Homo sapiens: one gene and its partner. The protein of the gene in region 1 binds, or shares a complex with, the protein of each later gene. Each region holds a gene or a part of one and is shown on either strand. Other genes may lie near its edges.

Evidence for each region. Proteins that work in one complex are often made in the same cells at the same time.
Region 2: the proteins of BSG (region 1) and XKR8 are in contact, whole or in part, in a cryo-EM structure (PDB 7DCE), measured with the Homo sapiens proteins. Residues at the interface, in NP_001719.2 of Homo sapiens: Trp326, Pro327, Gly330, Ile331, Glu334, Val335, Leu338, Val339, Ile341, Ile342, Phe343, Tyr345, Glu346, Lys350; in NP_060523.2 of Homo sapiens: His232, Leu236, Val239, Leu242, Trp243, Leu246, Gln247, Arg280, Gly283, Arg284, Ile287, Phe291, Ser294, Asp295, Leu298, Ala301, Thr302.

What each region holds. Positions count from the first base shown.
Region 1 is NC_000019.10:567,674-575,595, forward strand, and holds the start of BSG (basigin isoform 1 precursor), read left to right. Parts: upstream 1-4,922; 5' UTR 4,923-4,961; coding exon 4,962-5,028; intron 5,029-7,922.
Region 2 is NC_000001.11:27,955,109-27,962,981, reverse strand, and holds the start of XKR8 (XK-related protein 8), read right to left. Parts: upstream 3,010-7,873; 5' UTR 2,913-3,009; coding exon 2,620-2,912; intron 1-2,619. Other genes in the region: SMPDL3B (acid sphingomyelinase-like phosphodiesterase 3b), read right to left, coding at 4,144-4,506, 6,900-7,033, 7,118-7,298.

The DNA of each region.
Region 1 (7,922 bases):
GGACAGGATCGCAGTCTAGGCCCATCCCATCTGGGTCCCAAAGTGGTTGGATTCTATTTCTTTTTTTTTTTTTTTGAGACGAAGTATCACTCTTGTCCCCCAGGCTAGAGTGCAGTGGCGCGATCTCCGGTCACTGCAACGTCCGCCTCCCGAGTTCAAGCGATTCTCCTGCCTCAGCCTCCTGAATAGCTGGGATGACAGGGGCACACCACCACGCCCCGCTAATTTTGTATTTTTAGTAGAGACAGGGTTTCTTCATGTTGGTCAGGCTGCTCAAACTCCCAACCTCAGGTGATCCGCCTGCCTCGGCCTCCCAAAGTGCTGGGATTACAGGCGTGAGTCACTGCGCCCGGCCGATCTTCTTTCAATATACTTTCCAGTTTCTTGGGCAAACTAAGCTTTTTTGTTTGGAGAATAACGTGGGACCTCTGGGAGGGGAGGCTCCGGGAGGAGAGGCACAGCCAGGGCTTCCTCTTTAGAATGTGGTGTCCTTATTACTGCCCGTTTTGCCTCCTCGTCTGCCTTTGTTTCCTTTGGCCTCCAGTGTTCCTGCCTTTTGTGCACCCTGCAACGCAGAACAGCTACGTCTTTGGGGCCCACACGGCATCCTGGAGCTGTAAAATTTCTTTTTTTTTTTTTTTTTTTCATATGGAGTTTCTCTCTTGTTGCCCAGGCTGGAGTGCAATGGCACGATCTCGGCTCACCGCAACCTCCGCCTCCCAGGTTCAAGCGATTCTCCTGCCTCAGCCTCCCTAGTAGCTGGGATTATAGGCACCTGCCACCGCGCCCGGCTAATTCTGTATTTTTAGTAGAGATGGGGTTTCTCCATGTTGGTCAGGCTGGTCTCCAACTCCTGACCTCAGGTGATCCGCCTGCCTTAGCCTCCCAAAGTGCTGGGATTACAGGCCTGAGCCACCACGCCCGGCCTAGGAGCTGTAAAATTTCTTCTTTGTATTTTATTTCTTTGCCCCCAGCAGTTAAAAGTTCTCTTTCTTGGCTGGGCGTGGTGGCTCATGCCTGTAATCCCATCACTTTGGGAGGTGGAGGCAGGCGGATCACTTGAGGTCAGGAGTTCAAGACCAGCCTGGCCAACAAGGTGAAACCCCGTCTCTACTAAAAGTACAAAAATTAGCCAGGCGTGGTGGCGCGTGCCTGTAGTCCCAGCTACTCAGGAGGCTGAGGCAGGACAATCGCTTGAACCTGGCAGGTGGAGGTTGCAGTGAGCCGAGATCGCACCACTGCACTCCAGCCTGGGCAAAAGAGTGAGACTCCATCTCAAAAAAGAAAAAAAAAGTTCCTCTATGGGATGGTCTTTCCAATTTTCTTTTTTCTTTCTTTCTTTTTTTTTTGAGACGGAGTCTCGCTCTGTCGCCCAGGCTGGAGCGCAGTGGTGCGATCTCGGCTCACTGCAAGCTCCGCCTCCTGGGTTGAGGCCATTCTCCTGCCTCAGGCTCCCGAGTAGCTGGGACTACAGGCGCCCCCACCACGCCCGGCTAATTTTTTTGTATTTTAGTAGAGATGGGGTTTCACCGTGTTAGCCAGGATGGTCTGGATCTCCTGACCTCATGATCCGCCCACCTCAGCCTCCCAAAGTGCTGGGATTACAGGCGTGAGCCGGCAGCTGCATATTTTCTTATCTGTTTATTAAGTCTGTTTAAGAATTCCACGGGCCTGGCCAGGCGCGGTGGCTCACGCCTGTAATCCCAGCACTTTGGGAGGCCGACGTGGGCAGATCACAAGGTCAGGAGATCGAGACCATCTTGGCCAACATGGTGAAACCCTGTCTCCACTAAAATACAAAAAATTAGCCAGGCGTGGTGGCGGGCGCCTGTAATCCCAGCTACTTGGGAGGCTGAGGCAGGAGAATCGCTTGAACCCGGGAGGCGGAGGTTGGAGTGAGCTGAGATCGCGCCACTGAACTCCAGCCTGGGCGACAGAGCGAGACTCTGTCTCCAAAAAAAACCCCATGGGCCCTTCATGTTTCCTCTGTTGTACGTTAAATGCTCGGGAAGTATTTTGGGTTTGCAGATCTGATTCCCGAATCCTTGTAATTATCCCATCTCCGAGATCGCTCATGTTTTTTAGGTCACATTGTCATCCCACCCAGGATCTTGGGCCAGGAATTTACGCTCCGCTGAAAGGACGTTCTGACCGGGGGGTGTTCACGCTCCCAGACTAACACAGCGGCCTGTGAATCATGGTTCTCTCTCTCCTGAGACGAGAGTACTGAGGGTAGACATTAATTCAGCCCAAGCGTACAGCTGTGGCCCCAGAAATTGGTCAATTTGATCCGCGAATCCAAAAGGGTCATCTAACAGTGGTTTGAGTTCTTTTAGATTTCTAACCTCTGAACTGGTTAAAGGGGGCATTTACGAAGTCAATATCCCTTCCTCCCGGTGGTCCTTCCCTAAAGGGGAAAAGGGCTGAGGCAGGTCTTTTTGAGCAGGAGGCAAAAGGAAAGTTCTGTGGGTTTTTGTTTGTTTGTTTGTTTTTTGAGACGGAGTCTCGCTCTTGTTGCCGAGGCTGGAGTGCGGTGGCGCGATCTCGGCTCACTGCAAGCTCCACCTCCCGGGTTCAAGACATTCCCTGCCTCAGCCTCCCGAGTAGCTGAGTAGCTGGAATTACAGGCGCCCGCCACCACGTCCGGCTAATTTTCGTATTTTTAGTAGAGGCGAGGTTTCATCATCGTGGCCAGGCTGCCAGTCCTGAACTCCTGGCCTCGTGATCCACCCGCCTCTGCCTCCCAAAGTGCTGGAATTACAGGCGTGAGCCACCGCGCCCGGCCGAAAGTTTCGAATATCCCTTTGGCATTGTTCTGTTTCCCGTTGGAGCTTTCCTGAGGAAGGGGCATGTTCTAGTGGCTGTCCAGCGGGGATGTGGGTGGCAAGGTCCAGGTGGTTCTATAGGGGAGGGATGGAGGGGCGGAGGAGCGGGTGGGGGAGGGGCGGAGGGGCGAGGGGTGGGTGGGAGGGGCGGAGGGGCGGGTTGGGGAGGGGCGGAGGGGTGGGGTGGGTGGGTGGGGGGGGCGGAGGGGTGGGTTGGGAGGGGCGGAGGGGGTGGGTTGGGAGGGGCGGAGGGGGTGGGTTGGGAGGGGCGGAGGGGGTGGGTTGGGAGGGGCGGAGGGGGTGGGTTGGGAGGGGCGGAGGGGTGAGTGGGGGAAGGTGGTCTAGAGGATCCCACCCTTCTTTAGATATGGGGCGTCTCTGCTAAAAATACAAAAATTAGCCGGGCGTGGTGGTGCGCGCCTGTAATCCCAGCTACTCAGGAGGCTGAGGCAGGAGAATCGCTTGAACCCGGGAGGCGGAGGTTGCAGAGAGTCGAGATCGCGCCGCTGCACTCCAGCCTGGGTGACACAGCGAGACTCCAACACACACACACACAAAAGATATGGCGCGTCTCATTCATTCACAAGTTCCTCTTCAAAGGTTTGGCTCGTTCAGCGCCCTCGTTCTTCGTTTCCTACTTCCAAGGCCAACCTGACTTCCTCACCCTCTGGGCCTCCCCGTCTGAGTCTCAGTAAACAAGTTTCCCGCCGGTCCTGATCTGCAGAGATGGCACCTGCCACCCACTCTGCACATCCCCCTCCCGTCGCCACGGGCTCTTCCCGCCAGTGTAGCCACATTCCTGCCCCTTTCCAGTTAGCCCTTCGCGTTCGGCTTAGTCTGCGGTCCTCTTGCATTGCGACTCCGAGTTTAACTTCCAACACACACTTTCAACCTCCAAGAGACGCCCCCACCTGTGTCGCCCCAATAGCGACTTTTCTCACCGTGGTCGCCGCGGAACTTCAAGGGTCCTTCCTACCCGCGTTGCTGAGAGTCTGGGTTTACGCGTCACCTCGGGCGGGACCCGATCCTCCGCTCCTGAGGCCCCCACAATGAAGCAGTCGGACGCGTCTCCCCAAGAAAGGTAACCGCCAGCCTCTCCTGAAACAGAATGGGATCCAAATGGGATATTTGGGGGCGGCGAGTCGGTCCCGCAAAGAGAAACCAGCACTTAGAAAATTTCTCAGCGAGACCACTTTACTTGTACGGAAGGGGGCTGCCTGCGTGGGATGCAATCTCCAGAGCACACGGGACAAAGGAAGGGAGCTTCTGTTCCTCTGTCCTTTCCCTGTTGGCTGGGGTTGGACGCCCACAATCTAAGCTGATCCCGGTTGGCTAAAACTTAAAACTTTTTTAAAATAGGGTAAACGCGCCACCTGCGAGGAAAGAAGAAGGGGGTAAGGTTGATTGACAACTTTAGACCTGGAAGTTGAGTTTCTGAAGAGGAACTTACTTGTCCCAACCAAATGGTGCACAGGACGTTTATACTAAGAAATTATTCATTTTCTGAGATCCAGATTCAAGTGCCCTTTAAGTATTTTTATTTGGGCGGAGGAGGTCACTTCCTCCCACCTAATTTATTAATACGTTCATATATATATATATATATGTACATTTTTAAAGGCAGAGATGTGCGTCTCGCCATGTTGCCGCGTCTGGTCTCGAGCTCCCGGGCTCAAGCGATCTTCCCGCCTCGACCTCCCAAGGCTCTGGGAGTACAGACGTGAGCCACAGCGGCCGGCCCGTGTTTAACTCAGATAAAATCTGGGTAACACACTTTCAACGCTTCAACCCCCTCGGGCGCACCGCTCTGCGCTCATTGCAACTTTGAAAGCAGGAAGGAAGAAATGCGCAGGCTCCAGCCGCGTCCCCGCAGGCCCCACTCCCGTTTCCTAGCAACGCCGGGTCACGTGCGCCGCCGCCCGGATTCCGTAGCGTGAGCCTGCCGGAGCCGGCGCGTACATGCGAGCGTGTGCGCGCGTGCGCAGGCGGGGCGACCGGCGTCCCCGGCGCTCGCCCCGCCCCCGAGATGACGCCGTGCGTGCGCGCGCCCGGTCCGCGCCTCCGCCGCTTTTTATAGCGGCCGCGGGCGGCGGCGGCAGCGGTTGGAGGTTGTAGGACCGGCGAGGAATAGGAATCATGGCGGCTGCGCTGTTCGTGCTGCTGGGATTCGCGCTGCTGGGCACCCACGGAGCCTCCGGGGCTGGTGAGGAGCGGGTAGGGGGCGGGGGTGCGGTCCTGCAGGGGCCGGGAATGGAGGCCGCGGTGCCGACCCGAAGCCGACGGGAGCCTGGGGCCTCGGCGCGGGGCGGCCTGGGGTGCGAAAGGCCGGCCCCGGGGGCTTCCCGCGCCAGCATGGAGCTTGGGGGTGAAGTCCCAGGGTTTGAGGGGGGACTAGAGGTTCCTCCCGGCGCGGCCTGCCGGGCTCCCCCGGGCGCTCCGGCCTCGAGCCCGGCCTCTGTGTGTGGGCGTGAAGCTCCCTGCTTGGAGGCGGGAGCCAGGGGGTCCTGGCCAGGCCGGTCTTGGTCAGGGGAGGTGGGCGTCTTGCTTTTCGGTCACCTGGGGTTGGGGGTGACCTGCTTCCTGGGTGAGGGCGTCTGCGAAGGCGGTTGGAGGTGGCCCGCCCGCCGGTCCCATCGGCCAGGAGAAGGGAGACCCAAAGCCTGGGTGAGCGTCCCCTTTGGCCTGGAGCCAGGGGTCAGGGGCTGGTTGGTGCCTGCCCAACCCGTCCTGCTGGGGCTGGACTCCGCAGGACCTGGGGAAAGCGGCCTGGGCGTGGAATCTGGAGACGGGTCCACCCTGCCTGCGAGTGTTAGGGTCAGAGACCCTCCCCTGAGACTCTCTGGGGCCCCCGCAAGGGCCCGTGCGGCCTGGAGCGATCATCTTGGCGCTCCCTTCTGGAAAAGGGGCTTTTGTCCTCCAAGAGCACATGGAGGCTCTGAGTGGGTCAGCCCTCCGGATCGGGAAGGGATTACCGTTCTTCACGGGATTTAGCCCTGGCGTCTTGCCTAGGGCGTGCACCTGCCCCCGGGTGTTCTCCCAGACTCTTAAGACCTCGCAGGCTCCCTCGAGGGGCCCTGCGTGGAAGGGAAGGCGGAATCTCCCTCTGATTCTGCCTGGATTCAGCACCCAGAATGAGGTGGTCTCTGAACGCCCCTCCTCCTTTACAGGCGAGGAAACAGCCCTGTGGGAAGTCGAGGTTCCAAGGTCACAGTGAGGGGGCCCTGGCCACCCGATTCAGCGCAGGAAATAGTGAGAAAGTCGTTTTTAGCCGACTCTGACCCGCATTCGGTTTCCAGTGCTGTCTTAGGAGGGCCGTGTGTTGAGGGTGGGCAAACGTGGTTTGGAGAGCGCATTTGGGAAATGGATTGAGGTGTGTTTTTCCGGGAGAAAAGCATGACATCCTTTCTTGCTTCATAGAAAATTTCTTCCTTTGTTGAGACCCCCATTTGGTTCTGGGTTAAAGATTTATAGTGAGGCCGGGCGTGGTGGCTCACACCTGTAATCCCAGCACTTTGGGAGGCTGAGGCGGGTGGATCACCTGAGGTCAGGAGTTCAAGACCAGCCTGGCCAACATGGTGAAACCCCATCTCTACTAAAAATACAAAAATTAGCTGGGCGTGTTGGCGCACGCCTGTAATCCCAGCCACTCAGGAAGCTGAGGCAAGAGAATCGCTTGAACCTGGGAGGTGAAGGTTGCAGTGAGCTGATATCATGCCACTGCACTCCAGCCTGGGTAACAGGGAGACTCTGTCTTTAAAAAAAAAAAAAAAAGAGGTCGGGCATGGTGGCTCACGCCTGTAATCCCAGCACTTTGGGAGGCCGAGGCGGGCGGATCACGAGGTCAAGAGATCAAGACCATCGTGGCTAACACGGTGAAACCCCGTCTCTACTAAAAATACAAAAAATTAGCCTGGCGTGGTGGCGGGCGCCTGTAGTCCCAGCTGCTAGGGAGTCTGAGGCAGGAGAATGGTGTGAACCAGGGAGGCGGAGCTTGCAGTGAGCCGAGATCGCGCCATTGCACTCCAGCCTGGGCGACAGAGCGAGACCCCGTCTCAAAAAAAAACAAAAAAAAAATTTATTGTGACCGATGTGTTGGGAACAAGGTGCAGAGCTGGAGGGTCTGGCCTCCTGAAGGGTCAAGAGCAAGGGCTTCGAGCCTCTGTCCTGGGCATTGAGCCGTAGGGGGCCTTGGGCAGAGGCTGGGGAGGGGGCTCCTTCTTCCAGAGGCTTTGCCAGCTAACTCCTGACCTACGTCTGAGATTTCGTCTTCCTGGTAACCAAAGTGGCCCTTTATCGAATGTCTCCTGGGCAAGGGCCTGGCCCCAGCACTGCGGCCAGCTCTCTGGGGAGACACAGATAGGAGCCCATGGGTGAGGTGAGCGCGGAAGATAAGCCGCCCCCGCCAGCCCTGTGGAAACCCAGCCAGGCCTGACTGGGTTTCAAGCACAGCACGAGGTTCCCACATTGAGCTAATTTGGACAGCCAAGTGGGTGAAAGACCTTTGGTCTCTCCCTGCTGGGTAGGGTGGTTCACAGTTTTGTTCCTTTTGTGCATTTGTGCAGGAGACTGAGAAGGGTTTCTTCTGAGCAGAAAGCTTAGCCTGGGGCTTACTGGCCAGAGCTGCCTGCAGCCTGGGAAGCAGGTGGAGTCTGCAGTGCTGGCAGCGCCGCCGTGCAGCGGTGTAGCCGTGTGTGCGCGTGTGTGTGTGTGGTGAGAAACCCCACTTTTGCTGGGGACTGACTCGTGAAGACCACAAGGTCTGGGCAACACAGCCTTGGCCCGTGTGGGGTGGACACTGCTGTTTGCTCTGTGAATTCGTGACTGTGTTTGCCTCTCCTGAAACTTGCTTCAGGGGCGTCTGCGGGTTGGTGGGGCACAGCCGGGTGGGGTGAGTGCCCAAGGTTGGCCGTCCGCGTCTCCTGTGGGCTTGTCGGGGACCGGAGGGCCGGGGTGTGCTAGCTGGGTCCCGAGGGTGGAGGGCTTCACCCCCGAGCCTCAGATGAGAGGAGTGGGAGTGCCTGGCTGCGGCCGGTGGGGGTGGGTGGGGGAGGTGCCCGAGGCTGCTTCCCAGAGCTGTTCTCGCTGGCTGCTGTCTGA
Region 2 (7,873 bases), on another chromosome or scaffold:
TGTCCCAAGCTCATCACAAACCTTGTCCTGTTTACTTCTCACAAAAGCCCATTTTACAGATGGGGAAACAGGATCAAGAAGCTAATAAGGTCTGGGTGCAGTGGCTCGCGCCTGTAATCCCAACATTTTGACAGGCCAAGGCAAGAGGATCACTGGAGGCCAGGAGTTTGAGACCACCCTGGGCAACACAGCAAGCCCCATCTCTACAAAGAATTTTTTTTAATTAGTTGGACGTGGTGGTACAAGCCTGTAGTCCAAGCTACTCAGGAGGCTGACGCAGGAGGACAGCTTGAGCCCAGGAGTTCAAGGCCACTGTGAGCCATGATTGATTGTGCCACTGCACTCCAGCCCAGGCAACAGAGACCCTGCCTCTCTCTCTCTTTTTTTTTTTCTTTTTTTTTGGAGACAGAGTCTACATCTGTCGCTTGTCGCCCAGGCTAGAGTGCAGTGGCACAAACTCGGCTCACTGCAACCTCCACCTCCCAGGTTCAAGCGATTCTCCTGCCTCGGCCTCCAGAGTAGCTGGGATGCTGGGATTACAGGCATGCGCCACCACACCTGGCTAATTTTTGTAGAGATGAGCTTTTGCCATGTTCAGCAGGCTGGTCTCAAACTCCTGACCTCAAGTGATCCACCCACGTCAGCCTCCCAGACTGCTAGGATTACAGGCATGAGCCACCAAGCCTGACCAGACCCTACCTCTTTTTAAAAAACAAACAAAAAATTATAAGCAGCTAATAAGTACTGGAATGAGGATTTGGATCCAAACCTGAATTGGAAAGGCATGCTATAAAGTTGCCTGAGGCAGTAGTTCTCAAACTTTAGTGTGCCCAAGATCTCCTGGGGTCCTGTGGGCAAGAGGACATTTGCCTCTTGGGCACTTCTGGGCACAGGCCAGATGGAATCAGACTCTGCCTTGCCCCGGCCACACAGGGGAGGGGCTGGAGGAGGGTTAGATTGGAAGGAGGGATCCCATTTAAGAGGCTGGCCCTGAGTGGTTAAGGATGGAGATTGGGGCGGAGTTAAGAGAGTCCAGAGTTTGGACAGACAGGTCTGGGGTACCCACTGGCATGAAGAGTAAGTGGAGGATGCACCAAGGACCCTCCACCCAGAACTTTGCTCTCAGTTGCCTATTGGGAGAGAACCCCGTTCACTCATCACAAGCTCATTCACCAGACATGTACTGTCACTTCCCCTGGAAGGACACAAGAACACACTGAGGAGCAGGCAGGCAGGACAGGCTGGGGTTCTCCCTCAGCAGGAGCCTTTGCCTATGGTCCCCAGTGACCTAGCAGGGACCCCTGCCTCGGCCAATTCACAGGCAGGAACAGAGACCCATTTCCAAAGCCAAAGCTAGTACAGTCTGTCTGACTCAAGCTCAGCAGAAATATTGGCCACAAAGATGCATAAGGTAGTTACAGATTCACGGCTCATGGAGGCCTGCCCAGGACTTAACAACTGCACCCCTTCATGCCCACCCGGGGTTTTCTGATGTCTCTATAATCCCTCAGGCAAAACTGCCACATTCAAAGCTCCTCTCTTCCACTCCTGGAGACTCCGTGTGGCTTTGTCAAGGCCAGATCTCAAGAGTTTGTAAAAACGGATTCAAGAGCAGATCCTGGCCCTGGCCACCCCATCCCAACCCACACCACCCTCTGCCCTGACTTTGTCGCATGCCTCTGAGCCTTGGGTTTGTTTTCCCATCTCTACGAGGCTCCACCAGGTCCAAAAAGGAGCAGAATCCACACACATTTTCCAGGACCCAGCCTATGCCCAGCCCTGGCTGGCTCCATGGGCATGGATGAGTCAGAGGCCATCTCTGCCCTCTTGCTGGGTCTGGGGTGGGAAGCCAAGTTTCAGGGGGAAGAATACAACCAGGCAGACAGGGTGAGAGGCGGCCTTTGTGAGGGGCAAGCGCTGTGGTGGGGTCAGGGCTGCTGAAACTCCCAGGGAGGCCCAGGTCAAGAAGCCAGCTGAGGTTGCTGAGTGCTCACTCTGAGCCAGGGCAGTGGACAGATGTCATTTCACTGCATCTTCACCAAACGGGCAGGCGCTATCCCCATCCCAATGGGAACAGCAACCAAACAGCCCCACTGAGAGGTCAGTGACTTCCCAAGGCCCTGCCCATGCTGAAACATGGGATGCTGAACTGAGTCCGCAGCCCCTGCCATTACAGGCCAGGCACTGTGCGAGGCACTTTCTCATTCTTTCGCTCACTCTTCACAACAGGCCTGCCCGTCACACCTGTCTCAGGGTGACTACCTCCTTTCTACGCAGGAGGAAACTGAGGCTCAGAGAAATGCAGAAGTGAGGCGAGAGGGGGCAAAGCCAGAAGTGGATCCCTGAGAGGTCCGACTTCAAAGCCCATGCGCCTCCCTTTCTTCCCTGGGCCTCAGTTTCTTCGCCTGTGCCAGGAAAGCTAGGGCTAGAATGAAGGCAGTCTACCGGGATTCCCTTTCCGTAAAGGGCTGCACGCTCACCTGTAGGCCAGGCGCCCACAGGACTTGGTTCCCTCTCCCAGTCCCCTTCCCGGCATATGGCGTGTCACCTGTACAGGTGACCCAGCTGACGGAGGTGCTGGGCTCCGACACTCCTCCCCTCCCGGGGCGAAGCACTCACCTGTACAGGTAACCCAGCTGCAGGAGATGCAGCAGCGCCAGGCAGCGGCGCGGGGGCTGCGACCCGTGCAGGCCGGCAGGGTCAGCGCGCAGCCAGAGCCAGCTGAAGAGCTGCAGCGCCACGGAGGCCAGGCCCAGCAGCGCCAGCACCAGCGCCGCCCACAGGTAGCGGCCGCCGAGCGCATACTGGACGGCGGCCCACAGGTCGGTGCCCAGGTCGAGCAGGAAGGCGGCGGTGCCCAGCACGCCCAGGACCAGGTCCCGAAGGAGGGCGCCGCGGGACGACCAGGGCATGGCCCGCCGGCCTCCGCCCTCTCCTGCTCCTCCGCGGTTGGGGCCTGCCCTCAGGGCCCGGGGTTGCCGAGGCAGGAAGGAGGTGGGCGCAGCCCTCGGGGCGGCCCGGGGCCTGGGCCTGGTGGGCGGGACTTCCCCGTCCCGCCCCGTCCGGGGAGGAGCGAGGCCCGCGGTTGTCCCAGGTCCTCCGCCCGAACCCCAGCTAAAAGCCGCTCGATGCTCTGCTCCCGCCGCCAGCCCAGGGGTCCACCGACCCAGCCCAGCCAAGCCCGCTAGGCCTGAAGACCGACTGCCCTTCGCTTCGCAGGCTTCAAATGGCCTAGTTTTACCTTTGAGGCGCCCGGAGGCCCAAGAAAGCGAGAGGGCGGGGAGACTAGAGCCTGGACCAGGGCTGCGATCCCTCACACCTGTATTGTTGCAAAACAAAACGAAACGCAAAGGCACATTCTAATCCCTAAGTGCGAGACTTTGCAACAACGCGTGCGCCTCGATCCAGGGATACCCGGAGAGCACGGGGCCGCTGGGTTCACGCCAGCGATCCGAGTCGGGGGAGGGCGGGCGTTAGGTTCCTGCAAATGAGTTAACCTCATTTCCATACGGAAGGGAATAGAGGCCGGGCGCGGTGACTCACGCCTGTAATCCCAACACTTTGGGAGGCCCAGGCGGGCGGATCACCTGAGGTCAGGAGTTCGAGACCAGCCTGGCAAACATGGCGAAACCCCGTCTCTACTAAAAATACAAATTAGTCGGGCGTGTTGGCGCGCGCCTGTAGTCCCAGCTAGGAGGCTGAGGCAGGAGAATCGCTTGAACCCGGGAGGCAGAGGTTGCAGAGAGCCGAGATAGCGCCACTGCACTCCGGCCTGGGCGACAGAGCGAGACTCCGTCTCAAAAGAAAAGAAAAGGAACACAACACAGAATCAAACGCATGATGAGCTTTGTTTTGTGAGTTAAACATAATACGCAAAAGAAGTATGCTTGTAGGGGGGTCTTGGGTCGTCATTTCTTTTCTGTTTCTGGTTTGTTTTTGGAGAGAGTCTGGCTTTGTCACCCAGGCTGGAGTGCAGTGGCGCGATCACGGATGGCTGCAGCTCCTGGGGCTTCGCTTCCTGATTCGGTTGTCCTATTTCAGTTCACTCCTCAGGCGCGGAGGAAATGGTGGAAGGCCCAGCTCTGGGTGATCCTGGGCGCTGCCCCCGTTACCCGTTACCAGGAAGAAGGTGAGCCTGGCAGGTCACAGCACGAGCGTGCACAGGCCCAGCAGGGCCATCAGCAGCAGCGGGAGCTGGGGCACGGGCGTGGTGCCAGAGGCATACAGACAGGTGGTGTAAGCGTCAATGTCCACCTGGCGCATGGCACACACGTGCTGCATGCTGCAGGCCTCGTCGCAGACCCCAGCAGAGTAGCTGACTGAGTTATAGACGTAGTAGCGCTGCAGTGTGCTCTGGTCGCCAGCGATGCGGTCCAGCACTGTGTGCATGGAGTGGGCGCTGGCGTCCGGCACCCCATAGGCCTCGGTCAGCTGGTACTCGAGCTCCCAGCGCGGCGTCCCCTGAGCATTCGCCTGGCTCAGGTTCATGAAGTAGGTCACCATGTCCTGGAAAAAGGGTTTGGGGTAGACCGGCTGTGAGCAGTTGTCTGCTTCCATCCCCATCCTGCACCTTGCATTTGCCCCCAAGTTCTTTAGAGCAGTGACCATGACCACTAGTAGTTATTGAGCACTTAGCTGTGCACCCATTGTGCTTGGCAGACATCCTCTGAATCGAATGAGGTAACTGCGCTTATTACCTAGGTTTCACAAATGAGGAAACTGAGGCCTAAAGAGGTTAATTCACTTGGCCAGGGTCATACAGGTATTCATACAGGTATTCAGTGGTAGCAGGATTGGACCCCAGGTTTACCCCAGGTCCCACCATGCTAGGGTACACATAGAAGACGCTCAGTAAATATTTACATAATGAATAGATAAAAGCAACATAAAAAGAGCAACACTAAGCATGAGAGAGATTATGAACTGTAGACTCCTAGGACCCAGGTGCATGTTCACGGCTAGACTCTGCAGGGTTCATCAGTCCAGCGGGTTCCAGGTACATTTATGAACCTGCTTCAGGCCACTGCAGACGGGGTAAGAGGAGCTGCCCGTATGCATGGCCACTCTGTGCCAGGAACATTCCATTATTTCATGTAGTCCTCCTCAAACCCTGCGAGGTTCTGTTACTCCCATTTTACAGATGAAGCAAGTGAGGCACAGAGGTCAAAAGATCAAAAAGCTTATGAGTGGTGGAGCCAGGATTCAAGCTCAGGGCTGACTCCCTCCCTGAGGAGAATGGAGGGCCTGTTAGGGGGTGATGGTGCAGCCTGCCATTCCCCTTGCTCAGACCCTTGGAGTGCCCATGTGGACAACAGGCCACTCTTTAAACCCCTCAGACCTCTTCTTAATCTACCTTTACTAGAATCAAGGACCTGGGTTAGCTCATGCAGTCGTTGGCTTTAAATGTCCTCTCTCCACTCCCAGATCACATCTCTATCCTCACCTCTTCAAGCTCCAACTTGCCCCTTCCCTGTCCACTTTCACTTGATGCCATTTAGCCCTCCCAAAGGTAACAGGTCCAAAACAAGACCTCTGACTGACCCTCCGAAGCCTGATCACCCTGCCACTTATCTCAGTAATCGGCAGCCACAGCCTACCGTTGCACAGGCCAAGAGCCTTGGAAGCCTCCTGGATTCGTCCCTTTTTCTCACAGCTCATATCCACTCTAGCAAATCCTGCATCCAGAATTCATCTGGGACCTGGCACTTTTCACCATCTCACTGCCTCCACCCTGGGCAAGCTACTATCCTGTCATCTGGGATTTGTCCTTCCCTCCAAACGGCCTCACTGCTCCCCCACCTGCCCCTACAGCCTGTTCCCTGCACAGCAGACATGATGATTCCATAAAATTATAAGTCACAGGATTTCATTCTTCTGCGCAAAACCCTCCAAATCCAGAGTCCTCATGGAGGCCTGCAAGATCGGACCTCCCCTCCCACTCTCCCCTTGTGCCTCTTACTGTGGCCACATGGCCTCCGTGCTCTTCCCCTAACCTACCACGCACATTCCCACCCCGGGGCCTTTGACTTGCTGTTCCCTCCACCTCCCCAAGATACCCACTGGGCTCCCTCCCTCAATACACTCAGAACTCAAATGGCACCTTATGTGGACACTTCCCCTTCCCACCTATCTAACACAGTACACACCTCCCATAGCTGTCACCCTGTCGCCTCACTGTTTTGATTTTCTCCTTAGCCCTTCTCTCAGTACTATAATTAATTCTACATATTTATTGTCCCTCTCCTGTAAGATGTCAGGTCCAGGAGAGGGGTGACTTTGTTTTTAAATTTACATATCTTCTGAGATTAGAACAGGGCCTGGCCAATGGCACACACTTAATGCATTTTGTTGGATAAATAAAGGAATAATATTTTTCATCTCAACAACCACAAGCTCATCCTACGAGGTGAGGGACTGCCCAAAGAATTAGGGGCTGGAGCCTCGTCTGTGTACGGAAAATGTGGACAATGGGCTTGAAGTCAGACTGTGGGAAGCCTTGAGTACTAGGTCAAGGAGACACAACTTTATCTTGAAGGCACTGGGGAGCCACTGAAGGTTTTTGAGCAGGACGGAGACAAGATGAAAGTGGTGCTATAGGAGATTAGTTTCTTCTCTCTTGTGTAGCGGATGGGCCATAGCAGGGCAGGGCCAGAGGCAGGGAGACCAGGTATGAAGCTGTGACAGTCATCCAGGGGAAAAGGTGACTTGGTGAGGCACTGCCCTGACTCGGTGGCAGGTGCCTCCAGGGTTCTGATCCTGAGCTGGAGAAGGGTGGAAGGAGCTCAACCTTCCTGAGGCTCAGTGGTCAGGGGAAGGTGGATAAGCTGAGAGTGAGGGAAGGTGGTGATGCATTTAAGCCCCTCCCACCCTCCTCCTCTGGCCTCCGCAGGACTCCTGACCTTCAGGCTCAGTGTGGCTCGGTCATATTCGAACACCCGGATGGCTGGATTGTTGGCCCCATTGACCACTCCAGGTAATGTGGTTTTCCATGGGGTGACTCCAGGTGTGATGAACATGGCGCTTATGGGGACACCTGTCAGGAGAGAGACAGCAGGACTGAGCGGGTCTGGGGAGAGAAGGAGGGAGGGAGCTGGCAGTTGCCCTCCAGGTTGAATACCTGCATCATCATAGAGCATCCGAAAGCTGTCGGTGTGGTGGTGCCCGAAGAACTGCCCTGCTATGACGCGATGATGCTTCCGGACCACCTTCAGGTATTTTTCATTGAAGCCCTCCCGGAACCATGCCTTGTTTTGCGTCTTCTCAAAGAACCCCGGGGGCACGTGGCCGACAATGTACACCTACAAGGGAGGGGTTCCCAGAAGAGGCTCACAGATGCCCTCTCCAGACCCTCATTTCTACTTCTCAAAACCTGCAAATTGCCCCAAAGGCAGGTAGACAGGCCCAAATGTATCTCCTCCCTGAAGGCCTCCCGGATTCCATGTCCCACTTTCTCCCTGTGCCCTGCAATGAATGCACCACATACCTTCCCACCTCTGTGCCTGCCACCTGGAGTACCCTTCTCCTTTTCACTTCTGTAAATCCTCCCCACACTTCAAAGAGCACCTCCCCCATGAAGCTTTCCTAATCCTTCAAAGACTACTCTTCTCTTGGAGAGCTTGAACACTGCAACGAAACCATTCTTGCGTGGTTGTGTGATATGCTACACGGTAATGTGCATTCGTTTCTTACATTCCTTGAGTCACTCATCTGACAACACCTGGGCACTTGGCCACCATGGCAGGAGTTAGAACAGGGGACAGAGTTAAATGTATGAGTTTTGGAGTCAGACTGCAGCTTAGACACCAGCTGTGTATCACCTCTCTGAGCTGCTGTTTTCTCATCTGGAATAGCACATAGCTGGTGGGGTTTTGAG